Linked DNA regions of Homo sapiens. The protein of the gene in region 4 purifies or fractionates together with the protein of the main gene of each other region. This does not show direct contact. Each region holds a gene or a part of one and is shown on either strand. Other genes may lie near its edges. The genes, in order: RCCD1, ZZEF1, UBR1 and YJU2B.

The links.
Region 1: the proteins of YJU2B (region 4) and RCCD1 purify together in Homo sapiens (affinity purification with mass spectrometry; 2 studies listed by BioGRID and IntAct, with this or other methods). This does not show direct contact.
Region 2: the proteins of YJU2B (region 4) and ZZEF1 purify together in Homo sapiens (affinity purification with mass spectrometry; 3 studies listed by BioGRID and IntAct, with this or other methods). This does not show direct contact.
Region 3: the proteins of YJU2B (region 4) and UBR1 purify together in Homo sapiens (affinity purification with mass spectrometry; 3 studies listed by BioGRID and IntAct, with this or other methods). This does not show direct contact.

Annotation. Positions count from the first base shown.
Region 1 is NC_000015.10:90,957,735-90,964,321, forward strand, and holds the end of RCCD1 (RCC1 domain-containing protein 1), read left to right. Parts: intron 1-2,165; coding exon 2,166-2,264; intron 2,265-2,593; coding exon 2,594-2,764; intron 2,765-3,290; coding exon 3,291-3,320; intron 3,321-3,883; coding exon 3,884-4,035; 3' UTR 4,036-5,391; downstream 5,392-6,587. UniProt on the Homo sapiens protein: Plays a role in transcriptional repression of satellite repeats, possibly by regulating H3K36 methylation levels in centromeric regions together with KDM8.
Region 2 is NC_000017.11:4,069,186-4,077,030, forward strand, and holds part of ZZEF1 (zinc finger ZZ-type and EF-hand domain-containing protein 1), read right to left. Parts: intron 7,805-7,845; coding exon 7,683-7,804; intron 7,575-7,682; coding exon 7,452-7,574; intron 6,245-7,451; coding exon 6,078-6,244; intron 5,994-6,077; coding exon 5,912-5,993; intron 5,167-5,911; coding exon 4,965-5,166; intron 3,572-4,964; coding exon 3,423-3,571; intron 1,740-3,422; coding exon 1,499-1,739; intron 1-1,498. UniProt on the Homo sapiens protein: Histone H3 reader which may act as a transcriptional coactivator for KLF6 and KLF9 transcription factors.
Region 3 is NC_000015.10:43,095,352-43,103,196, forward strand, and holds part of UBR1 (E3 ubiquitin-protein ligase UBR1), read right to left. Parts: intron 1-7,845. UniProt on the Homo sapiens protein: E3 ubiquitin-protein ligase which is a component of the N-end rule pathway. Recognizes and binds proteins bearing specific N-terminal residues that are destabilizing according to the N-end rule, leading to their ubiquitination and subsequent degradation.
Region 4 is NC_000019.10:13,750,510-13,758,354, forward strand, and holds part of YJU2B (probable splicing factor YJU2B), read left to right. Parts: intron 1-1,098; 5' UTR 1,099-1,299; coding exon 1,300-1,302; intron 1,303-3,779; coding exon 3,780-3,833; intron 3,834-5,687; coding exon 5,688-5,770; intron 5,771-6,908; coding exon 6,909-6,964; intron 6,965-7,276; coding exon 7,277-7,337; intron 7,338-7,845. UniProt on the Homo sapiens protein: May be involved in mRNA splicing.

The DNA.
Region 1 (6,587 bases), on a different chromosome or scaffold from region 4:
TTAGTGCTTCTCCAGACGAGCTCATGATCTTGTGCAAACCTTCCTCCTCGTTTTCCAGTTTGGGTGGGGGCCTACCCAGGCCTCCTTCCAAATTCATCCATCCATCGCCCAGTCAGTTATGACTCCTAAATGCCTCTCACCCTCGGCCTCCTCTGCCTGCACCATGGCCCACTCACGCCTGGACTCTGGCATTTGTTCCTAGCTTCTCTGTTACTGGTCTCACTGCCCCTCCCCTCCTCTCCCCACCTGCTCCCAGCCAGGACTGTCTCTTAACAGTGCTGCCGAGGGAGTATGGAGTGTGAGGGGGCAGCTGAGCCAAGGAAAACGCAGAAACGCTGCAGTTGCCTAGGGGGCCATGATGTGTGGCACAGGGTGGACACTGGGGTGCCCACCAGGCACCAGGATGGTGATGAGTGTGTCCCTGTGGTGGTGCCACAGCTGGCCAGAGTGAGGAGTTTCACTTGGTGATCCAGGTGTAGCTCCTTCCTAGGCTGTTAGAGCCCATGCAGAGAGGGTGAGGCTGGGAACAGATGATCTTTGTCTGTGTCTGGGGCTCTCATTCTGGCTGCTACGTAGATCACCTGGAAGCTTAAAAAATTACCAATGCCAGGGGGCCGGGCGTAGTGGCTCATGCCTGTAATCCCAGCACTTTGGGAGGCCGAGGTGAGTGGATCACGAGGTCAGGAGTTCGAGATCAGCCTGACCAACATGGTGAAACCCCGTCTCTAAAAAAAAATACAAAAATTAGCTGGGTGCAGTGGTGTGCGCCTGTAGTCCTGGCTACTCGGGAGGCTGAGGCAGGAGAATCGTTTGAACCTGAGAAGCAGAGGTTGCAGTGAGCCGAGATCGTGCCACTGCACTCCAGCCTGGGCGACAGAGCGAGACTCAGTCTCAAAAAAAAAAAAAAAAAAAAAAGAAAAGCTACCAGTGCCTTCCTCCACACCATATTCTCATGGAATGGGCCTGGGCTGGTTGCCAAGCTCAGGAAACCCTGGGCTGAGCCTCGCCAACGTGGCAAAACCTCGTCTTTGTACAAAAAATATAAAAATGAGCTGGGCGTGGCGGCTCGTGCCTGTGGTCCCAGCTACTCGGGAGGCTGAGGCTGGAGGATCACTTGAGCCACGCGTGAGTGGAGGTTGCAGTGAGCCAAGATCACACCACTGCACTCCAGTCTGAGTGACAGAGTGAGACTCTGTCTGTCTAAAAAAAAAAAAAAAACAAAAAAAAAAAACCCCAACCTTGGGCTGGAGAGACCAGAGGGCTGGAAACAGCCCAGTGGGACGCCCTGCACTCAAGGTCCAGAAGGAGTTTGAGGCCTTAAGTTTAGTGTAGAGGCTGAAGCACGGACACATCCCACCAGACTTCCTAGTTTCAGATCATTGCTCGGGCCCTGGGACCTCGGGCCTGGTACTTAACCCCCTCTGTGCCTCAGTTGTGAATAAAATAGGGATCCTGCGTAAATGGTGATATTGTCATAAAACCACCTGTAGGGCTATTGTGAGAATTAAGTGATTATATTTGAAAAGCATGTGAAACATCAGCATGGATTAAGCACTTCATAAAGCAGCTATTGTTAGAAATTTTTAGAATTAGGCAGCTGTTCCAACCAAAAAGCTCCAGTGTTGTGGGAGGCCAGGAAGGGGAGAGCTGCACGTGGCTTTCATCAGGACCGGCTGTGGGTGCAGTTGAAAAAGGGGCACAGGCCGGCCCAGTGGTTGTTTTATTTACTTATTTAGAGACAGGGATTTTGCCATATTGCTGAGGCTAGTCTCGAACTTTTGAGCTCAAGTGATCTACCCATCTCAGCCTCCCAAAGTGCTGGGTTACAGGCATGAACCAATGCACCTGGCCCTGGCCCAGTGGTTTTGAAAGGGAGACCACTGCGGTACTTCTAGGGATACATTTCTGAAATGAGGGGCTATTTGGCAGCATAAGAATGGAAGTAGAAGGTCCAGTAAGGGACTTAAAGGGTGATCTGAAGGCATTGAGGGGATGTGAACCTAAGACAAGCCCCTGGGGCCCGAGGGGAAGCGCCTTGGCCTGGAGTGCTACCTTGGGCAGGGCAGGCTTTAGTTGTCCCCAGGAGCGGATGCGATGGGGAGGAGAGTTTGGATGGATGCAGGGGCTTCACAGTCTGTTTCATGTGTCCCCTTGATCTCTTTCAGAGACTGGGGATATTTATATCTGGGGCTGGAATGAATCAGGGCAGCTGGCCCTGCCCACCAGGAACCTGGCAGAGGATGGAGAGACTGTCGCAAGGGAAGGTGAGGGTCATCTCGGCTCCCACAGCCGTCTCCCCAGGATGTGGCTGTCATTCCTAACTCCTGGCTGTATGCTGGCCTCAGAGCTACACTGCTCAGATGGAGCATGTGAGCCCCTTATGGGAGGGAGCATTGGCAAGGCTGATGCCGGTCTTGGCACAACACACTTGTGCAGCAGTGCCAGCCCTGCCTGCAGAATGTAGGGGTTGGGAGCACCAGCTTTGGAGCTAGGCAGTCGTGTACCTCAGAGCTGTTGTGGCAATAAGTGACTGCATGAATAAGATTTAGCTCAGGGCTCAGTTGGTGTTCACATCATTATTATCATTCTGAAGCCACAGAACTGAATGAAGATGGTTCTCAGGTGAAGAGAACGGGTGGGGCTGAGGATGGAGCCCCTGCCCCCTTCATAGCTGTCCAGCCCTTCCCGGCATTACTGGATCTCCCCATGGGCTCAGATGCAGTCAAGGCCAGCTGTGGATCCCGGCACACAGCTGTGGTGACACGTGAGTGGGGCTGGGAGGCACTCTGCTCCACTCGAGCTGGTGCCTACGGAAGGGGGTGTGGTCGACGGAAAAACTTCTGTCTTAAGGCTTCTGTGGCTCATACAGAGCAGCTACCTTGCTCAGTGGATAAGCCCCAACCCCCTTGTTGTTTCACAGTAGTTCCCCAGCCTGTCAGGCCCAGAAGTTTCTTCCTTCTGGTGGGAGGCTGATGCTTTCTGTCCTCCCTGCACGGCCACAGACACATTCCCTGCCCGCCGCCGCCTCTGACAGCAGGGACTGTCCAGTCTGGCATGGAAGACTGCGGCGCTCGGTAGCATGGCACACAGGAAGATCCGCCACTTTTTCCCTCGGGATCCTCTGCCATGCCACGTGTGATCAGCCAGTTGTTAAGAGAATATGTTGTTCCATGCCAGGCAGATCTCATGAGGATTGTAATATGCTAGCTGTGGGCTGTGCCAAGCTGGGCTGGACAGATGCCTTGCCAAAGAACCGTAGTGACAACTATCGATTGTCCTTTTGCTTTCAGGAACAGGGGAGCTCTACACCTGGGGCTGGGGTAAGTAAAAGGATTGTTTTTGTGACCCTGAAACCAAGGAGAAGAAAGACCTGGGAGTACAGGGCAGGTGACAAAGCCAACAAGACTGGAGGAAGCAGGGGCCTCGGCCAGGTCACTGGGAGGAACAGGACTGCTCCCTCCCTGGGGTTGGAACAGACATAGGCGCGCTCAGTCCGAGGCCAGACAGGGGAGACATGGAGAGGATATCGGTACCACCCGCCTACCTCTCTGAAAGACTGTCTTAAGGGAGTATCCAACCAGCACTTACAAAGCAGCTTTTTGTGGATGTGACACTGGGTGGAGAAAAAGATTCGATGGAAGTGTGTGCTCTGAACATCTTAGCTTGGATAGCAGGGAAGTCTGGAGGAGCGTCTTGCCTGGAGTGGCTGGTCGCCACTAGCCTCTTGGGGATCCCCAAGGTTGCCTGGCTCTGGGTCTCTTGGATTCACAGAGCAGTGGGGCATAATCCCAGCACTTCATTTGATAGTCTGGGCCCCTTCCTGGAGGGAAAGCAGCAGCAAGACCCAGTGGAGACGATGGCAAAGGGGCTGATTTCACTTTAGGTAAATATGGACAGCTGGGCCACGAGGACACCACCAGCTTGGATCGGCCTCGCCGTGTGGAATACTTTGTAGATAAGCAACTCCAAGTAAAGGCTGTCACCTGTGGGCCGTGGAACACCTACGTGTATGCTGTGGAGAAAGGGAAGAGCTGACATGTGTACGTATATGTATATGCAACACCTGTGAGACCCCCATTCAGGTCAAGGAAAACCATTGCCTGCACCCCAAGGGCCCCATATTTGCCCCTCCCCATCACAGTCCTGCCCTTCACCCTCAAGCACGGTCCTAAACTTGTCTGCACTTTAGAAACACCTGGAGAGCATTGAAAACTCTGCTGCCTAAGGTCAGCATCAATCAAAACAATGAAATCAATGAAACAATGAAACCAGAGCTTCTAGGTGTGTGGCCTGGATAGTGGTAGATTCAAAGCTCCACCCACCTCATCCCAGGTACATTTGATGTGCAGCTGAGATTGGGGCACATTCCAGGTCATCGTCTTCTGTCAGTCATTTCCCTGCTTTCGTTTGAATTTTACCATTCTTGTATGCAGCCTTATACGACATAGTTGTGTTTGCTTTTGAGTGTTAGATAAATGGAATCCTGTGTATGTGCTTTTGTGTCGTTTTTGTCACTCAGCATTGTATAATCCATCCTTGTTGGGTCCTGGAGTTCATTTTTAATGCTATATGGTGTTCTGTTGTATGAATAATACCTCAAGTGATACAGCCTTGTTGATGGTCATTTTTATTGTTTCTGATTTTGGTCATTCCACATAATTCTTTGTGCAGTCTTCTGCACATGTGCACAAGTTCCTTTGCAGAACATTGAGTTGAATTGCTAAGTCAGGAGATACCTTTAATTTTACTAGATAACTGTTGCCCCCAGCAGGGTGGGGTCTACTGTGGCTAAAATGTCAGGTAGATGCACACTGGTTTTAATTGGCATTTCCCTGGATACTGATGAGGTTGAGTAGCTTTTCATTTGTTTTGGATGGCTGGGCATGGTGGCTCACACCTGTAGTCCCAGCACTTTGGGAGGCTAAGCAGGGAGATTGCTTGAGGCGAAGAGTTCATATGTTTATTGGCCACTTGGAGTTTTTCTGTTGTCAAGTGCCTGTTCAAGTTTTCTGGCCTTTTAAAATGTTCTGTATTTTCCTTAGTGATTTTTCTTTTGGATATTTCAGATACAAGTCTTTTGAGAGTTAGTATTCAGAGTATCTTCTGCTACAATGTAGTTTGTTTCAGTCTCTCTTGGTATTACCAATTTTAATACTTAGGTGATGCTTACTCCATGCCAGGTAAGGCTCAAAGTGCTTTACAAGTATCAACTTATTTTGATAAAATAAGCTTATCAGTAGTTTTCTTTATAGTTAAATTCTATTTGTGCATGTGTGTGTCTGTGGTTTAGCAAATGTTTCCCACCCATGGGGTCTTTTTTATTGTGGTAAAATATACTGAACATAAAATTTATGTTCAATAAAAAACAAAAATTGTTTTTAACCATTTTAAGTACATAGTTCAGTGACATTATATGCATTCACTGTTGTGCAACCGTCACCCCTATGCATTTCCAGAACTTTTTCATCATTCTATGCTGAAACTCTGTGCATTAAACACTTAACTCGTCAGTCTCCCCTTCCCCAGCCCCAGGCAACCACAGTCCTAACCTTCTGTTCCTATGATACTGTAAGTGCCTCATGTAAGTGAAATCCCATAGTATTTGTCTTTTTATGACTGGCTTATCTCACTTAGCAGCATGTCCTCCAAGTTCATCCATGATGTAGCTTATGTATCTAGACTTCCTGCCTTTTAAAGGCTAAGATTCTGTTGTATGTATACACTGCGTTTTATTCATCCGTGCATTGGTGGATATCTGAGTTGTTCACTACAGTCAATAATGTTGCTGGGAACATGGGTGTACAACTCTCTTGAGTCTCTGCTTTCAGTTCTTTTGGATATATACCCAGAGTGGAATTGCTGGATTGTGTGGTAATTCTAAATTTTTTTGAGGAACTGCCCTGTTTCCCACAGAGGCTGCATCATTTTACATCCCCACTGGAAGTGCACACAAATCCTAATTTCTCCACATCCGCGTCCACACTTGTTTTCTATTTCTGGTTAACAGCCATCCTAATGGGTGTGAAGTGGTATTTCATTGTGGGTTTTTTTTTTTTTTTTTGGACAGGGTCTCTCTGTTGTCCAGGCTGGAGTACAGCCTCCACCTTCTGGGCTTAAGCCATCCTCCCGGGTAGCTGGGGCTACAGGCACGTGCCACCACATCTGGCTAGTTTTTTGTATTTTTAGTAGAGATGGGGTTGTTGCATATTGCCCAGGCTGGTCTCAAACTGCTGGGCTGAAGCGATCCACTTGCCTTAGCCTCCCAAAGTACTAGGATTATAGGCATGAGCCATCATGCCTGGCCAAGCCATTTTTTAAAATGGACAAAAGTCAACAAAGACGACAGAAGGATAGCAAGTGAGCATATGAGAAGATGCTCTACATCATTAGTCATTAGGGAGTTGTAAATGAAAACCATAGTGAGACACCACTCCATACACAGAATAACTAGAATTACATAAAGGCTGAACATACCAACTGTTGGTGAAGATGTGGAGAAACTGGAACCTTCATACATTACTGGTAGGAATGTAAAATGGTACAACTGCTTTGGAAAACAGTTTGGCATTTCTTCTTTTTTAAGATGG
Region 2 (7,845 bases), on a different chromosome or scaffold from region 4:
TTTTAACCCACAGGCTTTTATCCCTCTACTGAAAATTCCTTCAAGTAAAAAGATTATCCAGCTTTCTTACTATAATTTGATTACAAAAATACATATTGACATTCCCCCCGCCAAAACCATACAGGTTACATCACCCCCTCGATTCCTCAGCAGAGAAAAACTCTTCCATATGACATTTGTTTCCATAAATCACTCATGTCTCAACACAGTTTTGTTTATTTGAGCAGCTTTTTAAAGGAGATATTAAGATTTGGGGATGTAATCAAGATGTTTTAACAATCAGAAAATAAATTCTGCAATGTGAGATCCAAAGAAATGAGCAATAAAGGTGGTAGGAATAAAAATATCAATAATAACAAAACGAGGCTGGGCGCGGTACTCACGTCTGTAATCCCAGCACTTTGGGAGGCTGAGGCAGGCAGATCACCTGAGGTCAGGAGTTCAAGACCAGCCTGGCCAACAGGGCGAAACCCCGTCTCTACTAAAAATACAAACATTAGCCGGGCGTGTTGATGGGTGCCTGTAATCCCAGCTACTCGGGGGGCTGAGGAAGGAGAATCGCTTGAACCCGGGAGGTGGAGGTTGTGGTGAGTCAAGATCGCGCCACTGCACTCCAGGCTGGGTGACAGAGTGAGACTCCGTCTCAAAAAGTAAAACAAAACAAAACAAAATGAGCAACAGTCAATTACCCACTCTAGTGGAAGGAAGCTCTGTTTTTGCTTCTCCCGCCTGCGCTGCGTGGAGAAGACATACCCTGCCAGGCGGTTAGGAAGCCCATGCCTTATCTCTAGGTAGGGCTTGAAACACTTTTCCCCTGAATTAGTATGAAGGTAGAGAGAGACTCTCCCTCCGTGTGGGTCCTGCTAGGCGGCAGGGAAGCAGGGTAAATACAGAGATGGCATCCCTAAGAGACATGAGGAAAAGAGATGGTGAGGAGAAGGTTATCAGCAAAGGAAGCCTAGTGGGGTGATGCTACGAAGGCGCTGCAAGCTAGCTAAAGGTAATAGTTAATACCTACAGCTTCCTCCTTGGTTATTACTACATTCAAGAACTTAAACATCTGTGGTTTTAATTGGAATTTCTTAGAATGTTAGAGCGAATCACCCTTAAACCAATTTTACAGATAAAGAAACTGAGGTGCAGAAAGGTCGTCTGATTAACCTGAAGCTGCACAACTTTTGAGTTTTTGCACTGGGACCAGGACCCAAGTTAAGGTTTCTTTCCATTAAATTTCTCAGCAGTTTTCCATGAGAATTCTGGATAAAGATAATTTACCTGCTAATTTTGCAACTCAAGGTTAGGTGCCACACATTATAATCTGCTAACCATAAAGTGGCCATGAATCTTTTAATAGGCAAAGTAGAACCAACAAGATGATGTTTACAGTTATAGAAATGTGTTTATATTTTAAAATATTTTAAATGTTCACTTAAGATAGGCTTTCTTAAAACTTAGCAATTAGCCTTCAGATCAAAAATATTCCCTGTAATAAAGTTACCATATTTTTGCAGCTTCTCATATAAATCTGGAGTGCGATACACCAGAGCAGCAAAGGTGGCGTTCACAGCTTGATCAATAGTGGAACCAGCAACTATATCTGTCTTTGGGGCCTGTTTTCTACATGCCTGTATGAATCCTTTGAAAAGTTCTGAATATGGCCCACAGAAGTTCTGAGCAGGCTCTGACTGGGCAAAATCAAGAAGAAAATGGCGGCAGGGGTCGTCAGGAATGTTCTTAACCTGGAAACAAAAAATAAACCCATCACATTTAACACATTCATTCAAAAAATAAAATTTATTGAGCAAACTATTAGGCCAAAGCAGAAGTATAAAACACAGTGAACACTCTCCGGAAGTTTAAATCTATTTTAGGAAGACCAGACAGAGATATGAGTTAAAAAAAGATAAACATAAATAAAACATTAAAAGCATTAGAACTAGCATTCCCGTAAAGCAAAAGATTATCAAGTGCCAAATGCCTAGAAGGGATACCCAGTGCTGAGAATTCAAAGGAGAGAGATCCTGGTAGGTTAAAGTAATTAAGAAAAGCCTCCTGGAGGATATGGGCTTTGGCCTGGACCCTGAAGGATTGGCAGATTTGGCTCTGAGGAACATAACCATTAGCAGAGGTTACGAGTCAGTGGGGAGACTGACCTGGCCTGAAGTCTCAGCTGGGGAGTGATGGGAACTAGAGTCAGATAGGTAAGGTGAAAGGAGACTGCAGAGAGCCTTGACTGTCACATTGAGGAGTTAGACTTCACCCTGTGGGCAATGGGGAGCCATTAATGGTGCTTGGCAGTGGAATGACAAGATAATGCAGTGATTATAAAAAAAACTTGGTAGGTACGAATGTCATAAGGCAGGTGCAAATGAGGGCCCGGATAAAGATGCAGACAGAGGAAAGGACAGAGATGAACATCATGAGGAAGAATCCACAGGACCTGCAAGCTGACTGGACAGGAATGGGGAGACAGGTGAGGACAGGGGATGCTAGGGAGCAGTGGCTTCAGGCCTGGGGAACACTGACCACCACAGAAGTGACCGGTCTTTGGTTTTACACTTCTGAGTTAAGGGGAGTCAGGACATTTAAATGGAAATGCCTCACAGGAAGATGGAAACAGGTACTTGGAGCGGGGAGAAAACCAGACCTGGAGACTGATATTAGGAATTAGGGCCACAATGTTTGACAGGAGAAGAAAGTGGAGAGGATGAAGTCTTGGTGGGCTGTGGGGAAGGGAAGAAAGCCTGAATAAAGCCTACCCTTTAGGGAAGGAGGAATATGAAAAGTCAATGAAGGAGGCAAGTGGGCAGTCAGATGTAAGAGAAGACAGCGGACTAGCATGGATCCAAAGAAGAGAGGGTCTGAAGGAGCCAAATTTAACAGAGGCAAGGAGAACAGAAGCTGAGGAAGAGCCACTGGATTTGGCAATTAACTACTGAATAACGTGGGGCAGGGCAGGGAGGGGAAGGAAGAAAAGTAGAATACAGAAATAGAGGGAAGGAGAGGTGAAAAATAAAGACAGGGCAAACTTTTTAGTTTTTAAAATCTTATACACCTAAATCATGTGCTGTAATTCTAAGGAGAACAAAAGGTATAGCACAAATCATTGCTCTAAAGCTTGACTCAGTAGGCACTAGAAGTACACTCAATTGTTTGCCTGATAACTCCATCAACAGAGATTTACTGAGCACCTCCTACATTTCACCCAAGTCACGCATTCAGTATTTCTGAACACCTATTGCGCACTGGCCCCTGTGGGACACGGTGGCGTTAACAAGTTAACAAGGTATAGTTTCTGGCCTCAAGGAGCTAACTGCTTAATACGGGTAGTAAGATAGAAACACAAGTGTTTATAACTTAAAGTAATAAATACTTGCAGGCAGTTTCCAGTCTAAATAGAAAGAAAACGGAAGAGTAAATACCTCCTTACTATTCCGGTGTGGGTGAGTGGGCCAGCTTGCTTCTAATTCCAACTCTGGACAAACCTGATGCCTGAAGACAGGTTTCCACAGTGGGGAGCTTAGGACTAATGCCATTTTTGCCTGAGGTACTACCATGTTACTTCCTAACTCTAGAAAGAGAAGAAGACATATGACAGTTCTATTTTTGCCTTAATATATTGAGAATCTTTGAAATGAGAAAGAAAAGGTTAAAAAAAACCATGGATACTATTAAAACTTAGAGAAAGTTTACCCACATACCAGAATGTAATTGTGATACTTTGTAAACACATACCACAGATTAAGCTAAACCACCAAGTCCTGAAATACTGCTGCTCTGTGGAACAACTTCAGTTACAAGGTACCTTGGAAATGACTAATCTGTTTATAGTAAGCTGAAAATAGGATATGAACCATTTCTGGCATATAACACGAGGCCATTCAGGAACATTTAATTATGGAAAAACATTCACAATTTGTAAACTTAATTCTGTAGCAAATAATAAATATCCAGCATAGATGTGTTTAGAATAGGCAAAGAGAAAAGAATAGGTGGAAATAAAAATGCTAATAGCTATTTCTTTCTTTCTTGGAGAAATATTAAAAAAATCAGTTACTTCTGAGTGTTAGGATTAAGGATGATTCTATTTTCCTTTGTTTTTTTCCACTATGTAATTTTTCTATATTTTACTTCTAAAACTGGAAAAACTCAAGAAATGATCAAGAAATAAAATACAGTAGAAAGTTTTATTCTGTAATTCTTGTTCCCTGGAAGAATTAAATAAACAATTATACTGAACACATCTTTTTCCTTTTGTTTTAAGAGACAAGAGTCTCTCTCTGTTACCCAGACTGGAGTGCAGCAGTATGATCACAGCTCACTGCATGCAGCCTCTAACTCCTGGGCTCAAGTGATCCTCCTGCCTCAGCCTCCCAAGTAGCTGAGACAAAAGGCATATGCCACCACACCTGGCTAATTTTTACATTTTTTTTGGTAAAGATAGGGATCTCACTATGCTGCCCAGGCTGGTTTCAAACTCCTGGGATCAAGAAATCCTCCCACCTTGGCCTCCTAAAGTGCTGGGATTACCAGCATGAGCCACCTTGCTCAGCCCTGAATGAATCACTTTAAAACAAAATCCATAGTCACATATCTACATATATTTACATAAATATTCACATATTTAAAGGATATGCAATCAACTTATTCTATACTCCTGCCTTTTGGTTGGACTATACCTACACCTACTTGCAAAAAAATGACAATGTTGCCAAAAAAAAAAGCTGTTATCCTCCATAGACAGAGAACCCATGGCAGCCTTCCTGCTATGTTCCAAAGTCTAAGGCAAAAAGCTTCGTGACAATGGTATTGAGTGGACACTTTATTCTTTCGGTTTAAAGGAAACTGAAAAGGCGTATTATTAACCCCCTGCCATTACGTGGAAACGACCTACAAGAGGGCAAGCGCGCATCTTGCACTTCACCGTGGTTGTAAGAAGGGAAAGCACAGGGATGTGCACTTACGGCGCACAGACTTGAGCGCCATGCACTGGGAAGCCAGGCGTCCCATCAGCCGGGAGACGAGGAGCTGTAAATCCAGCCCCCAAGACACGGCAACATCGGGCAGCCCACAGGCAGTGACAGTGAATTTGTAGCCCCATTCGTTGTGACTGCTGTCAGAGTGAAAGAGGAACTGCAACCGAGGACCGGCCTTGAAGGTCACTTTCTAGAGACAAACAGAAATCATGTGGTCAGACAGATTAGAGGAGGAGTGCTTCAGAAATCAGCATGCTCTTCATGACGAGAAACATCTCAGTTTAAAATTGATCTCTATTTCCACATGTCCAAAATGACTAACGGAGAAATGTACAAAGGGGTGACGGAAACAGACCATTCACAGCCACACCCCATGAAGAAGGAGAGTTGGCAGAATACTGCTGCTCAGCTTTCTACACCTGGGGTGACCATCTGTCCACTACCGACTCAGCCAGTGGTCACATTTCCATGCCTCTGCTCCTGCCAAGACCACTGACCATGGAGAGAAGGTCAACAGTCTGAGGCAGTACTAAACCTCCAGCCCAAGAGCTCAAGCAGCTCTAACTGTGAGGCAGACTCTTGGCTTCCATCACATGGTCTGGGCCATCCTCCTAGACCCACCAGCACTTCTTGCTAAGGATGAAGGCTCTTCATTTACTCTAGACAACGCTGTCTGCTGCAACTACTCAACTCTGCCACTGCAGTGCCAAAGCAGCTATAAATGATAAACAGGCATGGCTGTGTTCCAAAAAAATTTGTTTACAAAACAGGTGACAGACTATAGCTGGTCAAACTCTGATATAAATCCTTCCTTTCACAAACGTGTAACATAAATGCCTCCCTTCAAAGACCTTACCTCTACTGCCCCCTGAAGGCTGACAAAAGGAAAAGCATTGGTGCAGAAGTAGGTACCTCTTTCTGGGACTATCACTCACCTTGGGCCATTTATCAGTGCCAACTTTTGTGTCATAGCGTGTTTTCCGACCTCTAGCGTCGGTAAATTCCAGATAATCATACCTGTGAAGGCATAACCTCTATTAGCTTCCTTCTCTCATTGCTGACCTATTAGCGCTTGGGGGTGAAAGAATATAGAAGTCTTACCTTTTTTCAGTTTCACACCTGTCATCGAATTCCACTTCAAAATAGGTTGCCCCTGGGCTAACAAAGACGGATACCTCATGGCAATTATTTTCATAGTTGTGGGCAGATTCCTTCGTCCACGTATGTAACACCACAGGCTGTTCCTGTTGCCAGGTCTCAACATCCAGCTATGATAACAAATGAGCCAGGGGAAAGAAAGGTTCTATCACTAGACACCTAGCCACATGCAGCAGACTGTTTCTCTATCAGTGCTCCAGGCAGATGGCCTTGACAGCCCTGCACAAACCAGCAGGCAGGCTCGAAGACAAACCTGACATTCCCATCTTCACACAGATCAACACACGTCCACCACGCAGCCGAGGAGATGTGCTTTTATTACACACAAAAACTCCATGACCAGCTTGTACCTTTTCGCTATGACAGAACTACTTACAAATCATTACCAGTGTGAATTCCCAGTGGAAAAAGTACTGAATGAGGAGTTTAAAGACCTCACATTCCTACCTGGGACACTGGCAAATCTGGATCTACTCTCCCTTCCTCTCCTACCCTTTTCTTTTGAGCGGGGGGTTGGGGGGGGGCCTTTGGTTTTTTACCTGTTAAATATAAATGCCTTTTCTACTGCCACAGAGTTGTGCTCTGTGGCACACAAAAGACACACAAGAAGAAGCTCACACAAGACAGTGATTAAACGTTATGTATGTATAATTAAGTAAGGGAGAAATTTCTTCTAAAGACAAAATGTAATTTGCCTTTCAACATACATTTTCTCTTCTAGACTTCAATTTTGTCACTCACTTACATGGTTTTTATATAACTTCATCAACTATAAAATGATGAGATTCATCTCTACAGCTTTTTCTGCGTCTCCTTTCTTTTTTTTTTTTGAGACGGAGTCTCGCTCTGTGGCCCAGGCGGGAGTGCAGTGGCGCAATCTCGGCTCACTGCAAGCTCCGCCTCCCGGGTTCACGCCATTCTCCTGCCTCAGCCTCCCGAGTAGCTGGGACTACAGGCGCCCACCATCACGCCCGGCTAATTTTTTTTGTATTTTTAGTAGAGACGGGGTTTCACCGTGTTAGCCAGGATGGTCTCGATCTCCTGACCTCGTGATCCGCCCGCCTCGGCCTCCCAAAGTGCTGGGATTACAAGCGTGAGCCACTGCGCCCGGCCTCTGCGTCTCCTTTCTAATGCTGACCAGGCCACATCGACTTGGACTGACATTCACCCTTGTTGGCAAGCCCACTGATAAAATCAAGGGAGCCTTCTAGAGGCTGCTCAGCTGTGCCTATCTGCAGTCCGTGGTCCACTTCACTAAGTGTGTCCCATCACTCCTGAGAGAGAACACGGGGCGGCTCAAGTGCTGACTCGAGTTACCTTCCTCAGTCCTCCTTCGGGGCCACTACAGAGCTTCTTCAGGAGTTCTGTGAGGACGCTGAACTCTCTCAAGAGCACGCAGTGTGGGATGTCTAAAGTGCAGAAGTCCAGCAGGAAGATAACCTAATGGAAGATGGATGAAGCACTCAGCGTCCACCTTAGGCTGGGCCTGGGGATGCAGACCCCCAACCCCCTTCCGGTTCTTTACAAATAGCTGCTAGTTTTTCTTACCAGTTGACGAGCTGCCATTGAAAACACTGAGTTACATAATCTTTCTACTATGGTTTTTCCACTGTACTGTGAGAAAAGGGATTCCAAAATCGCTCTCATGCTTGCCAGAAACTGGCCCACATCTACCGAAACAAAGAAAATAATTAATATATTATATAGTAGA
Region 3 (7,845 bases), on a different chromosome or scaffold from region 4:
ACTATTAGAAAGAGAATTATATTCAAGTGAGTAACAGTAGACTCCATTCTGGACAGGGTCTGTGTCATTCCTGGGCAGCAAGTGGGCAGTTAGGAAAGTGCACTAACTCTACTGGAGTCTTATCAGTAACGTTTACTTACCACAGCATATTTCCATAAGCACTCAGATTAGAATTAGAGTGTGACAACATTAAAAAAAAAAAAAAAAGGCTGCATCAAATGCTTTAAAAAAACTAAGCTCATCAACTATGGTTTATTCAAGAGGAGGCATGTTAACTGAAAATATCTTGAAAGAACATGTAGGCGGTCATAGTAAATCACCTGGCATTAGAGGTCTTAATATTTTGTGTTAGGTCATCTGAGGCAAGGGGTTAAAAGCTTAAGGAAAATTATTTCACAGAGCACAGCATATGCTTAATACCTTTACAGAAATGGATAAAGTGGCAGCAAGGGAACTCCGAGGTAACCCTCAAAGTCAGCATCCAAAGAAAGGATGGGCAAGATACAGGCACACCTCAGAGACATTTCGGGTTCAGTTTAAGACTACCACAATAGAGTGAACATAAAGTGAGTCACACAAATTTTTTTGGTTTCCCAATGCATATGAAAGTTATGTTTACACTACACTATACTAAGAGTGCAATAGTATGAAGTCTTTAAAAATGTACTTAATGTTAAAATACTGCTAAAAAATGCTAATGATCATCTGAGTCTTTAGAAAGTTGTCATCTTTTTGCTGATAGGGGGATCTTCCCTCAATATTAATGGCTGACTGATTAGGTTGGTGATTGCTAAACGTGGGGGTGGCTATGGCAATTTCTCTCTTTTTTTTTTTTTTTCTGAGACAGAGTCTCACTCTATCCCTCAGACTGGAGTGCAGTGGCACGATCTGGGCTCACTGCAATCTCCGCCTGCCGGATTGAAGCAATTCTCCTGCCTCAGTCTCCCGAGTAGCTGGGATTACAGGCGCCTGGCTCATTTTTGTATTTTTGGTAGAGATGGGGTTTCACCATGTTGGTCAGGCTGGTCTCAAACTCCTGACCTTAGGCAATCCGCCCACCTCGGCCTCCCAAAGTGCTGGGATTACAGCCGTGAGCCAACGCGCCCGGCCAGGCAATTTCTTAAAATAAGACAACCATGAAGTCTGCCACATTGATTGACCTTTTCACAAAAGATTTCTCTGTAGCATGTGATAGCATGTTACCAATGGCAGAACTTCTTTCAAAACTGGAGTCAATCCTTGCCAACTCTGCGGCTGCTTTATCAACTATGTTTATGGAATATTCTAAATCATTTGTTCTTATTTAAACAATGTTCACAGCATCTTCACCAAAAGTAGATTCCATCTCAAGAAACCACTTTCTCTGCTCATCCAGAAGAAACAATTCCTCATCCATTAAGTTTTATCATGTGTTTACAGCAATTCAGTCATAACTTCAACCTCCACTTCTAATTCTAGTTCTCTTATTTCTACCACATCTGCAGTTACTTCCTCTACTAAAGTCTTGAACCCCTCAAAGTCATCCAGGAGGGTTGGAATCAACTTCTTCCAAACTCCTGTTCATGTTGATATTTTGACCTCCTCCCACAAACTATGAATGTTCCTAATGGCATCTAGAATGCTGAATCCTTTCCAAAAGTTTTTCAATTGACTTTGCCCACATCTATCAGAGGAATCGTAATTTATGAAAGCTATAGTTTTATGAAATGTGTTTCTTAAATAGTAAGAGTTGAGAGTTGCAATTACTCCTTGATCCATGGGCTACAGAATGGATATTGTGTTAGCAGGCATGAAAATAACATTTATCTCCTTGTATATCTCCATCAGAGCTTTTGGGTGACCAAATGTATTGTCAATAAGCAGTATATTTTGAAAAGAATCTTTTTTTTTTCTCAGCAGTTCTCTACAGTGGACTTAAAATATTCAGTAAATCATGTTATAACAGATGTACTGTCATCCAGGCTTTCTAGTTCCATTTATTCAACATACGCAGAGTAGCATAATTCTTAAGTATTCTTGGATTTTCTGAATGGTAAATGGAAATTGGCTTCAACTTAAAATTACCAGCTGCATTAGCCGCTAGCAAGAGAGTCAGCCTGTCCTTTGAAGCCAGGCATTGACTTCTCTCTAGCTATGAAAGCTCTAGATGGCATCTTCTTCCAACAGAAGGCTGTTTCGTTTACATGGAAAATCTGTTTAGTGTAGCCACCTTCATCAATTATCTTAGCTAGATCTTCTGCATAACTTGCTGCATCTTCTCCATCAATCAGCACTTACTGCTTCACGCTGCACTTTTATGTTGTGGAGATGGTTTCTTTTCTTAAACATCACGAACCAACCTCTGCCAGCTTCCAACTTTTCTTCTGCAGCTTCCTCACTTCTCTCAGCCTTCGGAGAACTGAAGAGAGTGAGGGCCTTGCTCTTTGATTAGGTTTTGCCTTAAGGGAATATTGTGGCTGGTTCAATCTTCTATCCAGAGCACTAAAACTTTTTCCACATCATCAGTAAGGCTGTTTCACTTTCTTATTATTTGTCTGTTCACTAGAGTAGCACTTTTAATTTCCTTCAAGAACTTTTCCTCTGCATTCACAACTTGGCTAACTGCTTGGCACAAGAGGCATAACTCTTGGCCTATGTCAGCTTTCAACAGCCTTCCTCACTAAGCTTCATCATTTCTAGCTTTTGATTTAAAGTGAGAAATGTTGAACTTTCCTTTTCACTAGAATACTTAGAGGCCATTGTAGGGTTAACTGGCTTAATTTTAGTATTGTCCCATCTTAGGGTATAGGGATGCCCAAGGAGACGGAGAGAGATGGATAAGTAGCTGGTCAGTGGGGCAGTCAGAACAAACACAGCTTTTTTTATTATGTTTGCTGTCTTTTATGGATGTGGTTCATGGCACCCCAAAACAATTACAATAGTAACATCAAAGGTCACTGATCACAGATCATCATAACAGATATAATAATGAAAAAGTTTGAAGTATTGTGAGAATTACCAAAATGTGACACAATGACACGAAGTGAGCACACAATGTTGAAAAAATGGCACTGAAAGGCTTCCTTGAGACAGGGTTGCCATAGACTTTCAATTTGTAAAGAACTGATTATCTACAAAGCACAATAATAAAGCTCAATAAAATAAGGTATGCCTGTATTTCACTGGTTCATCTGTATCACTGATTTATAAAAGTATCTATCCAGACACACTCTTTGTGCAGTACTGAGGACAAAAACCTTTTCATTTGCAGGATGTTTGGTATTATAAGAAGTCAGTTTCCAGCACTAGCACATCTACACTAAGTTACTGTTCCTTCCCTAGACTCTTAGTTAGTGGGGCTGAATCAGTCATTTTGACTTAGAGTTTTAGAACTCAATTTCACATCTAATTCTATAGAATCTGGCATTAAAAAATCAAAATTTCCCTAACTCCCCAAAATAGAAATTATGAGATGGTGAAAAAACAAAAGCCATTAGGTCTTGCTAAGATCTGGTGACAAAGTACTTCAGTTAGACTCAAAAGACCTACATTTTCATCAGTTTTCCCACTCAGAGTGTGTCCTTACTACACAAAACTGTGCTCTGGCCTAAAACAATATAGATTCAAATTTCTAAGGAAAATCATCTCCAATTAAAATCACATATAACTCCTCACTTCTATATTGAAGTCAAGAGATTATGTTGTATTTTAAAGATCCCCTATAGCCCAGGCACGGTGGCTCACATCTGTAATCCCAGCACTTTGGGAGGCTGAGGCGGGTGGATCACCTGAGGTCAGGAGTTTGAGACCAGCCCGGCCAACACGGCAAAATCCCGTCTCTACTAAAAATACAAAAATTAGGTGGGCATGGTGGTGTGCACCTGTAATCCCAGCTACTCGGGAGGCTGAGGCAAGAGAATTGCTTGAACCCAGGAGGCAGAGGTTTCAGAGAGCCAAGATTGCACCACTGCACTCCAGCCTGGGTGACGTCTCCAAAAAAACAAAAAAAAAAAGTTCCCCTACAGATATGAGATTATGGGTACATTTTTCTTTGATTTCCATAATGATTATTGCGTAACCATAACAATATTAAACTTTTAAAAAATCCTCCCATTTCAGCAGGAGACAACTTTGGGAAATAACAGAAATATTCTATAACCTGATTTGGTGGTAGTCACACAAGTATATACATTTGTTAAAATTTATCCAAGAAACGCCTTAAATGGGTACATTTTATTGTATGTAAATTATATCTCAATAATGTTAATATCTCTTAACATTCTCAGCTTCTATTACCCCCACTTCCTCTCTACCTCAGTGTCTTCTCATTCATTCATTCATTCATACATTCAATAAAAACTTTGAAGCAATGTGCTAGAAACTAGATACAGCTGTGAACAAGCAACAGTTCAGGCCTTCAAGAACTTCACTGTCTAGAAGGAAAGACACATAGTAAACAGGTAACGTAGAGTACAGTCTGAGACACGCTACATAAAACCATAAAACAGGAGTATAGAAAGGGTGCTATAGGAACACACAAGAGGTGCCTCTTTTTTTTTTTTTTAGACGGAGTCTCACTCTGTCGCCCAGACTGGAGTGCAGTGGTGTGATCTCAGCTCACTGCAAGCTCCGCCTCCCAGGTTCACGCCATTCTCCTGCCTCAGCCTCCTGAGTAGCTGGGACTACAGGCGCCCGCCATCATGCCCGGCTAATTTTTTGTATTTTTAGTTGAGAAGGGGTTTCACCATGTTAGCCAGGACGGTCTCGATCTCCTGACCTCATAATAAACCCACCTCGGCCTCCCAAAGTGCTGGGATTACAGGCATGAGCCACTGCACCAGGCCAAGAGGTGCCTTTAACCTGGCTCTACCATCACAAAAACTTGATGTGCCCCCATGTACTCAAATTCTAAAATGCCCCTTTCTGACCACAAAGTTCAGTCCTCCCACTTATGTCAACCTCATGCCCTTTAACACCTCAATCCCACCAATTCCCTCCAGATTTCCTGTTTTGGCTTTTATTACCTCCCTGTTCAGCCTGGACTCGAAGGTTAGCCACTACCCTAACATGCCGGCTCATTCCCTTTTTTCTATCTACAACCTCCATCCACCAATCACTACTAATCTTACTACAATAAATCATTAATGTTGATCCTCAGTTATTCATTCATTTAAAAATATTTAAGTGTCTTCTGTATCAATCACATACCAAGATACATCAATGTGGCCAGGCATGGTGGCTCATACCTGTAATCCCAGCAGTTTGGGAGGCTGAGGCAGATGGATCATGAGGTCAAGAGATCGAGACCATCCTGGCCAACATGGTGAAACCCCGTCTCTACTAAAAACACAAAAATTAGCTGGGCATGGTGGCATGCCCCTGTAGTCCCAGCTACTCAGGAGGCTGAGGCAGGAGAATCGCTTGAATCCGGGAGGCGGAGGTTGCAGTGAGCCGAGATCGCACCACGCACTCCAGCCTGGCGACAGAGCGAGACTCCGTCTCAAAAAAAAAGATGCATCAATGAACAAGTCACACATGATCCTTCCCTTCATGGAACTTACCTCTCCCTCTGGAGGAAGAAACAGACATTTTGCTAAGTAAATAAAGACAATACAGTAATTACAGATTGTAATAATTGAAATGGGAGAAATAAACAGGTTGCTTTGACAGAGAATAAGAGGAACCCATCTTTTAGACAGAGTGTGTATTAAGAAAAAGCAGAGGAAGAACACTCTAGGAAAAGCAAACAGCAAGCAACAGCACAGACCCTAAAGCAAAATACAGCTTGGGCTTGTACTAACAGGCCAGGATGAGTGAGGAGAATGTAACAGGAAATGAGGTGGAGATGCAGGGGCTGGACCAGGCAAAGTCTTGAAGGCTTGTAATGAGTTTATAAGTATAAGAGAAAGCCACTGAGGATTTAGGTAGGAGACTGACATGATCTCATTTAATCTTTAAAAGATTACTCTGGTTGTTCTGTGCAGAATGGACAGGAAGAGGGCAACAGTGGAAGCAAACAGACCAGTTAGGAAGTCACTGCAGTAGCCAAGACAACAGAGAGTGACTTGGACTACATGGGTGGAGACAGAATTATTTGTCTTCAAGAGCTATGATGGAGGTGCTGTCTACTGAGACAGGGACAACAAAACTCTTGATCTGCCTTTCTCCTTTCCTCTCCTAAAATCTTGTCTTTCCTCTCAATATATGACACAACCAAGGCCAGGTGCGATGGCTCACATCTGTAATCCCAGCAACTGGGGAGGCCGAGGTGGGTGGATCACTTGAGGTCGGGAGTTCGAGACCAGGCTGGCCAATATGGTGAAACCCCACCTCTACTAAAAATACAAAAAAACTGGCTGGGCACGGTGGCTCATGCCTATAATCCCAGCAATTTGGGAGGCTGAGGTGGGCGGCTTGCCTGAGGTCAGGAGTTCAAGACCAACCTGGCCAACATGGTGAAACCCCTCTCTTTACTAAAAATACAAAAATTAACCAGGCGTGGTGGCAGGCACCTGTAATCCCAGCTACTTGGAAGGTTGAGGCAGGAGAATCGCTTGAACCCGGGAGGTAGAGGTTTCAGTGAGCCGAGATCTCGCCACGCACTCCAGCCTTGGCGACAGAGAGAGACCTTGGCTCACAAAAAAAAAAAAAAAAAAAAAAAAAGCCAGGCATGGTGGTGCATGCCTGTAATTCCAGCTACTCGGGAGGCTGAGGCAAGAGAATCACTTGAACTTGGGACAAAGAGGTTGCAATGAGCCGAGATCATACCGCTGGAAACAACACAACCGCTGCCATGAATGCTTAAACCAAAAACTGAGGATGCAGATATCATCTATTCCTTACCTTTTGCCTCATGCCTAATCTATCAGCAAGTCTTTTTGCTTCTTCCATCCTTCTAAAATCTTTCTCACATTCATCCTCTTCACTCTATCTCCAAGGATAACCTTTCCAGTGCAAGCTACCATCAACTATGGCTTGGGTTACAGCAGCAACTTCTTAATTGCTCCCACTGTTTGAAACACCAGACATCCAAGTGAAGATGTCAAGTAGGCAGTTGGATTTATGATTCTGGAGTTCAGAAGTGAGATGACACAGAGATATAAATTTGGGAACTGAATACATACAAATGGTATTTAAAGTCACAGAACTAGATGAAATCCCCTAGGTAGAGGTTATAAACAGGCAATAGAAAAGAGCTGAGTATCATGCCAAGAGGTATCTTCTGAAATTGACTTAAGGAAGAAAATCTAGTCGAGGAAGACAGAAGGCAGAAGTTCTGGCAGACTACCTCACAAGTCTCTTGATTCCCAATTTTTCTCAGTCCTCATTATCATGGACCCAATAAACCACCCTCTCAAAATAATACCCCATGCCATCACACTACTCTCACCTCCTACGTGCTTGCCTATTGTTTCCACGTTCTTACCTCATTCTTCCATTTTCCACCCGTTTCAATCATTCCTGTTCTCTCTTTCTCATCATCTCTGTCTCACTCTCTTTTCCTCTGTGTGTGTGTATATATATGCACACATTTTCCTCCTCAAAGATCTTATCCGGGCTGGGCGTAGTGGCTCACGCCTGTAATCCCACCACTTTGGGAGGCCAAGGCAGATGGATCACTTGAGGTCAGGAGTTCGAGACCAGCCTGGCCATATGGCAAAACCCTGTCTCTACTAAAAATACAAAAATCAGCCAGGTGTGGTGGAACACACCTGTAATTCCAGCTACTTGGGAGGCTGAGGCACAAGAATTGCTTGAACCTGGGAGGTGGAAGTTATAGTGAGCCAAGATGGCACCACTATACCACAGCCTGGGTGATGGAGTAGGACTCTGTCTTAAATAAATTAAATTAAATTAAACCCTGTC
Region 4 (7,845 bases):
AGCCACCGCACCTGGCCGGATGAGGTCTTTGATGGATATGATATGTAGGTCAAGACCTGTGACAGGGGGCTGGGTGCAGTGGCTTGTGCCTGTGATCCCAGCACTTTGGGAGGCCCTAGGTGTGTGGATCACCTCAGGCCAGGAGTTCCAGACTGGCCTGGTCAACACAGTGAAACCCTGTCTCTACTAAAAATACAAAAAAATTAGCCAGGCTTGGTGGCGGGTACCTGTAATCCCAGCTACTCAGGAGACTGAGGCATGACATCACTTAAACCCAGGAGGCAGAGATAGTGAGCCAAGATCATGCCACCCCACTCCAGCCTGGGTGATAGAGTGAGACTCCGTCTCAAAAAAAAAAAAAAAAAAAAAAAGCCTGTAACAAAGAGCTTGCAAACCTGAGGAACAGCAGGTGCAGGCCAGCTGCACTTGGCCTTTGAAGACAGCCAGGAAGCCAGTGTGGCTGGAACAGAGTGAACGAGAGATAGAGGGGTAAGAGTTAGGCTTGGAGAGGCAGGCAGGGGCCCCACAGGCCGTGGGAAGGGGTTTGACTTGATTCTAAAAACCATATGAATCATGGGAGGGGTTTAAGCAGGAGAGTGACACGTTTGTTCATATTAAAAGATCCCAGCTGGGCATGGTGGCTCACACCTGTAATGCCAGCACTTTGGGAGGTTGGGGCGGGTGGATCATGAGGTAAAGAGATCAAGACCATCCTGGGCAACATGGTGAAACCCTGTCTCTATTAAAAATACAAAATTAGCTGGGTGTGGTGGCGCACGCTTGTAGTCCCAGCTACTCGGGAGACTGAGGCAGGAGAATCACTTGAACCCAGGAGGTGGAGGTTGCAGTGAGCAGAGATCGCGCCACTGCACTCCAGCCTGGTGACAGAGCGAGACTCCATCTCAAAAAACAAAAAGATCCCCTGGGCAGCTGTGGGGTGAGCAAGTGTCAAGGGCAGAGTCGGGAGAGAGAAGACCGTGCTGGCCCACGTGAGTGATGATGGGTGCTGGACCCGGTGGGGGCCACAGAGGGATGAAAGTGTCAGATGTGATGCGTATATTGGCTGTAGAGTGGACGGGACTCTCTCTTTCTAAACAGACACGCCGCTTTTTGGATGCCTCCTATGCCTGGCGGGAGTCTTGTCTGAGCTGGCACCACCACACGGCCCACGACATCTTCGCAGGGAAGCCTGTGGACCCTCTGCCAGGCTCCACAAGAGGTCAGGACAGTGCAGTGTGTTCACAAGGCCAGTTTCTGATCGTCCGCCCCGAGGCTGAGGACCAGTAGGCAGCTCCCAAGATGGTGAGTAGACAGCCTCGTGTGCCCTGGGTTTCTCTCCCAGTCTTTGTAGGACCCTGGAAGCAGCCCCTCCTCCCCTCCCAGAGCTCTAAGATGATGATTTCAATCTCCGGGTCATCATCTTTTGGTGCAGTGGGTCTGAAATGTGGCTTTGCGCTAACATCACCCATGGGCACTTTTTAAATGTTTTTTTGTTTCATTTTCTTTTGTTTTTGAGACAGTCTCACTTTGTTGCCTAGGCTGGAGTGCAGTGGCACGCTCTCGGCTCACTGCAACCTCCGCCTTCTGGGTTCAAGCAAGCACGTCCCACTAATTTTTGTATTTTTAGTAGAGACGGGGTTTTGCCATGTTGGTCAGGCTGGTCTGAAACTCCTGACCTCAAGTGATCCACTACACTCAACCTAAATTTCCCCTTCCCCCTTTCCCCTCCCCCTCCCCTACCCCTTCCTTTCTCTTTCTTTCTTTCATTTTTTTTTAACAAGGTGAAATTCATATAACATAAAATTAACCATTGCAAGGCCAGGCACAGTGGCTCACGCCTGTAATACCAGCAGTTTGGGAGGCCAAGGCAGGCAAATCATTTAAGATTAGGAGTTTGAGACCAGCCTGGCCAACATGGCGAAACCCTGTCTCTACTAAAAATACAAAAATTAGGCTGGGCGCGGTGGCTCACGCCTGTAATCCCAGCACTTTGCGAGGTTGAGCTGGGTGGATCACCTGAGGTCAGGAGTTTGAGACTACCCTGGCCAACGTGGTGAAACCCCGTCTCTACTAAAAATACAAAAATTAGCCAGGCGTGTTGGCGGGAGCCTGTAGTCCCAGCCACTCTGGAGGGTGAGGCAGGAGAATCGCTTGAACCCGGGAGGTGGAGGTTGCAGTGGGCTGAGAACATGCCACCACACTCCAGCCTGGGCAACGAAAGCGAAACTCCATCTCAAAAAAAAAAATACAAAAATTAGTTGGATGTGGTAGCACATTCCTGTAGTCCCTGCTACTCAGGAGGCTAAGGCACGAGGATTGCTTGAACTCAGGAGGCAGAGGTTGCAGTGAGCCAAGATTGCACCACTGCACCCAAGCCTGCGTGACAGAGCAAGACTCTGTCTCAAAAAAAAAAAAGAAGAAAACAAGAGCGACTCTTCAGCCAGGCTCAGTGTTCTTTCTTGAGACCTGTGTTCAACGGTACTACATGTGTATCTGCCCAGTGGCAATGTTAAATACTTCTTACCGTCAATCACAGTCTCCAAAAGAGTGTGAAAGCCACCATAGGAGCATCTGAACCTCATGGAATTTTCCAAAGCAATGACAATGGGTTTTTTGCCCAAGTAGCCCTTCCCCAATCAGACACTGAGCCCAGCACTGTCCTCTAAAATGTCCCCAAGTCCCCCTTATCCAGGTCCTGCCCCCTGAGGCTGCACAAGTAGGTTTCCTGGAGGGAGCCTGTGTATTAGTCCAGTCTCACGCTGCTCATAAAGACATACCCAAGGGCTGGGCGCGGTGGCTCACGCCTGTAATCCCAGCACTTTGGGAGGTCGAGGTAGGTGGGTCACAAGGTCAGGAGTTCAAGACCAGCCTGGCCAATATGGTGAAACTTTGTCTGTACTAAAAATACAAAAAAATTAGCTGGGCGTAGTGGCACATGCCTGTAATCCCAGCTACTCGGGAGGCTGAGGCAGGAGAATTGCTTGAATCCGGGAGGCGGAGGTTGCAGTGAGATGAGATCGCACCATTGCACTCCAGCCTGGGCAACAAGAGTGAAACTCTGTCTCAAAAAAAAAAAAAAAAAAAAAAAAGACATACTCAAGCCTGGGTAATTTATAAAGGAAAGAGGTTTAATTGACTCACAGTTCAGCATGGCTGGGGAGGCCTCAGGAAACTTAACAATCATGGCAGAAGGGGAAGCAAACACATCCTTCTTCACGTGGCAGCAGCAAGAATGAGCAAGAGGAAAAGCTCCTTGTAAAACCATGAGGTCTCTCGAGAACTCATTCGCTGTCATGAGAACAGCATGATTCGCCCCCATGATTCGATTCAGTTACCTCCCACCAGGTCCCTCCCATGACACGTGGGGATTATGGGAACTACAATTCAAGATGAGATTTCGCCTGTAATCCCAGCACTTTGGGAGGCTGAGGTGGGTGCATCACTTGATGTCAGGAGTTCAAGACCAGCCTGGCCAACATGGTGAAACCCCATCTCTACTAAAAATACAAAAAATTAGCTGGGCGTGGTGGTGCATGCCTGTAATCCTAGCTACTCAGGAGGCTGAGGCAGGAGAATCGCCTGAACTCGGGAAACGGAGGTTACAGTGAGTCAAGATCGCACCACTGCACTCCAGCATGGGTGACAGAGCAAGACTCCATCTCTAAAAATTAATAGTAAAATAAAAAATCAGAAAAAATTTTTTTGAATGAGATTTGGGTAGGGACACAGCCAAACCATATCAGCCTCTCTCTGAGTCATGTCTCTGTTCTGCTTTGCAGGGTGAAAGGAAAGGGGTCAACAAGTACTATCCTCCAGACTTCAACCCTGAGAAGGTAAGCAGGCTCTCCGCTCCAGGTCCACAGTAGCAAAAAGACCCACGTCATCCCCTCTTGGGGTTAGAGCCACTGCTGCGGAAGGATGGGTGGCCCCCAAGGTCTTTTTGTCTTCTGCATGTCACCTGAGTCTCGAGGCTGTCTTCACTTTTGGGTGATAACTGTGGCTCTCCTCAGGGACCTGTAACTCCATGTCCACACTATACTAGAGTATAGTGTGTTTACAGCAGGGGCCCAGGATAAGGCAGAGCGCACAGATGAAGGGTCAGATCCCATGGCTTCCCCAGCTCCAGCACCTGTGGCGTCCTGGTTGTCCCCTCTGCCTGGAATCTCTTCCTCCATTTCACCATACTCTCACTTCCTTAAGTGCTTTTCTCACAGAGGTCCTCCCTGACCACTGTCTCGTTCTCTGTTGCATTGCTGAGCACTTTATATAATCTCATAGCCCTTATAACTCCCTCACTTATTCATTTATTTGCGTCTTGTCCATCTCCCCCGCTAGAACATTCTCTCCCTGAAGGCAGAGATGTTCATCTATCTTATTGTGGCTGTGTCCCCACACAGTAGGTGCTCAGTAAGGGCCCAAGTGTCCCAGCTGCCTCGTCCTGAGTATAGGATTTAGCCTCTCTATGCCAAAGTTTCTCCATACGTCAGAAGGGGGAAATAAAATGAGCTGACCTCACAGAATCATTGAGGGATAAATCCTAGCTACTCAGGAGGCTGAGGTGGGAGGATTGCTTGAGCCCAGGAGGTGGAGACTGCAGTGAGTCATAATCATACCACTGCACCCCAGCCTGGGCTACAGAGCCAGACCCTGCCTCAAAAAAAAAAAAAAAAAAAGCCGGCGCCATGGCTCACGCCTCTAATCCCAGCACTTTGGGAGGCCAAGGCAGGTGGATCACCAGGTCGAGAGTTTAAGACCATCCTGGCCAACATGGTGAAACTTGATCTCTACTAAAAATACAAAAATTAGCTGGGCGTAGTGGCCCACACCTGTAGTCCCAGCTACTTGGGAGACTGAGACAGGAGAATCGCTTGAACCCGGAAGGCGGAGGTTGCAGTGAGCCGAGATCACGCCACTGCACTCCAGCCTAGTGACAGAGCGAGACTCTGTCTCAAAAAAAAAAAAAAAAAAATAAGGTGATGCACATGAAGTCCCCAGCGAATGTTTGCCAGTCTTGTCACCTCACCTCATCTTCCCCATAAAACCTGGAAGTAATAATGACCATTATACGTAGTTGACAGACAAGGGAAACAGAGGCTCGGGAAGGCAAAACGTGAGGTCACTCGCCCAGGGTCCCCTGGCTCTTTCAGCTCATAAATGGGAACAGGGCTGGGCGCAGTAGCTCACACCCGGAATCCCAGCACTTTGGGAGGCCGAGGCAAGTGGATCACCTGAGGTCAGGAGTTGGAGACCAGCCTGGGTGACATGGTGAAACCCCGTCTTTACTACAAATACAAAAAAAATAGCCGGGCGTGGTGGCAGGCGCCTGTAATCCCAGCTACTTAGGAGCCTGAGGCAGGAGAATCACTTGAACCCGGGAGGCAGAGGTTGCAGTGAGCCAAGGTCATGCCATTGCACTCCAGCCTGGGCAACAAGAGCAAAACTCCATCTCAAAAAATAAATAAATAAATAAGAGAGGGACTATTCAAACTCACGTTCCTGGTTCCAAGCCTACATGTTCCAGTAAGACCTGGATGCCCCCTATTGCTATGAACACCCGTCCTGCAGGACATAAGAATCAAGGCCTCTCCCACCTGTGAGACACTTGTCCCAAAGCAGTGGGGGTGGCAGAAAATTGTGAGCTCCTCCAGCTCAGCAGCACTAATCCGCTCCTCATCCTCTCCACACAGCATGGCTCTCTCAACCGATACCACAACAGCCACCCGCTTCGGGAGCGGGCTCGGAAGCTGTCACAGGGCATCCTCATCATCCGGTAAGGCCCAGCATCACCTGAGGACCCCACCGTCCTGCCCCATTCCTTCAGTCTCAAGGAGAGTTCAGTGCCCTCATTGGCCCAGTGCTGCAGGGTCTTCATTCCATAAAGCAGAAAGTCACCGTATCAGTCAGTTATTGCCGTGTGACAAAACAATAAGCATTTATTATTGCTCACATGTCTGCAGCTCAGCAAAATATCTCTGCTGGGCTTGGAAGAGCTTGGCTGGGCTGGGCTAGGCTGGCCTGATCTGGGCTGGGCTCCCATGTGTTTCAGAGTTGGCTGGCTGGGGACTGGCTGGTTTAGCAGGGACTTGACCTGTACAGCTGGGCTCTGCTCCGTGTTGTATCTCAACCTGTAGCAGGCCAGCCTGGACTTGATCACATAGGACTCTCAAAAAAGACAGTGATCGTAGTTGGGCACAGTGGGTCACGCCTGTAAACCCAGCACTTTGGGAGGGTGAGGCAGGTGGATCACTTGAGACCAAGAGTTCGAGAGCAGCCTGGCCAACACAGTGAAACCCTGTCTCTACTGAAAATAGAAAAAATTAGGCTGGGTGCGGTGGCTCACACCTGTAATCCCAGCTCCTCGGGAGGCTGAGGCAGGAGAATCACTTGAACTAGGGAGCTGGAGGTTGCAGTGAGCCAAGACCATGCCACTGTACTGCAGCCTGGCAACAGAGCGAGACTCCATCTCAAAAAAAAAAAAAAAATTCGCCGGAATTGGTGGCGCACACCTATAATCCCAGCTACTTGGGAGGCTGAGGCATAAGAATTGCTTGAACCCAGGAGGCAGAGGTTGCAGTGAGCCAGGATCGCACCACTGCACTCTAGCATGGGGAACAGAGCAAGACTCTGTCTCAAAAAAAAAAAGTCGCAGCAGCACCCAAAGGCGGCTGTCCCTGGACCTGGTCAGTCTGCTTTCTAGCAGGCAGGAAGTTCCTGCTCAGTTACAATGGTTGTGATTCTTTTTCTTCCATATATCCATTTCCTGTGTAATGTGAGTGCAGCAACTCCCGTTAACAGGGCAGTCTAATACCCCACCCCTCAAATCACAACCGCGGCCAGAGTCGCAGGTGTGGAGACCCAGGGAGTGTCCAAGTGGACAAGTGCAAGTAAGATGCTGTCTGTCTTTGCAGATTCGAAATGCCATATAACATCTGGTGCGATGGCTGCAAGAACCACATCGGCATGGGTGAGCCTCTGCCCACCCTCCATTCAGTCCTGCAAACATCAGACCCCCTAACTGCTGGATGCCGCCGGGGTGGGGGTGGGAGGGTCCTGATCAGGAATGAGGGAGGAGACGGGCACCCGAGTGACTGGCTGGCCATGGAAGCCCCTTTGCAGAGGGATTAGGAAGCCAGGCTCTGGCTTCCAATCCCGTCTCTAACTCCTCCTAGTTGGGGAACCCTCAGCAAGTGACAGTGAGCCTCTTTGTACCTCATTTTACCCATCTGCAAAATTCAGATGGCAATGAAATTACCACCCCCGCCTGACCCCCTTCCAGGTGTTCGTTACAATGCAGAAAAGAAGAAGGTGGGCAATTACTACACAACCCCGATCTACAGGTAAGGGCGGCTTGGTGGCATCTTGGGAACAGGTGGGGTGGCCACAGGGCGAGGGGGCTACAAAGAGCCTGAGTTGCGGGGGGAACCCATTCCCTGCAGGACTCCTGGAAATCGCCCTGGTTGGTGAATCAGGGCACACCCCACCCCCGCAACCCTCCATGGCTCCCACCTTCCTCAGTAAAAGCCCAAGTCCTCCCCCTGGCTCACAAGGCACCACACACTCTGCCTGTCCTTTCTTCACCCTAACCTCCTCCTGCTGTCCCCCTCCCTGGCCTCCTCGTTGTCCCTCACACACCCCAGGGACACACCCACCTCTGTGCTTCCACCTGGAATGCTCTTCCCCAGGTAGCTCCAAGGCTCCTCCCTCACCCGGGGTTTCTGCTCAAACAGCACCCCTCAGAGACACCTTTTCTAAAGTGAGACTTGACACTGGTTGCTTGTGCCCTTGCTATCAAGGTGGGCCCTGCTGGGACGTCAGCCTTTCCATGAGCAAGTTGGCTTTTCCACT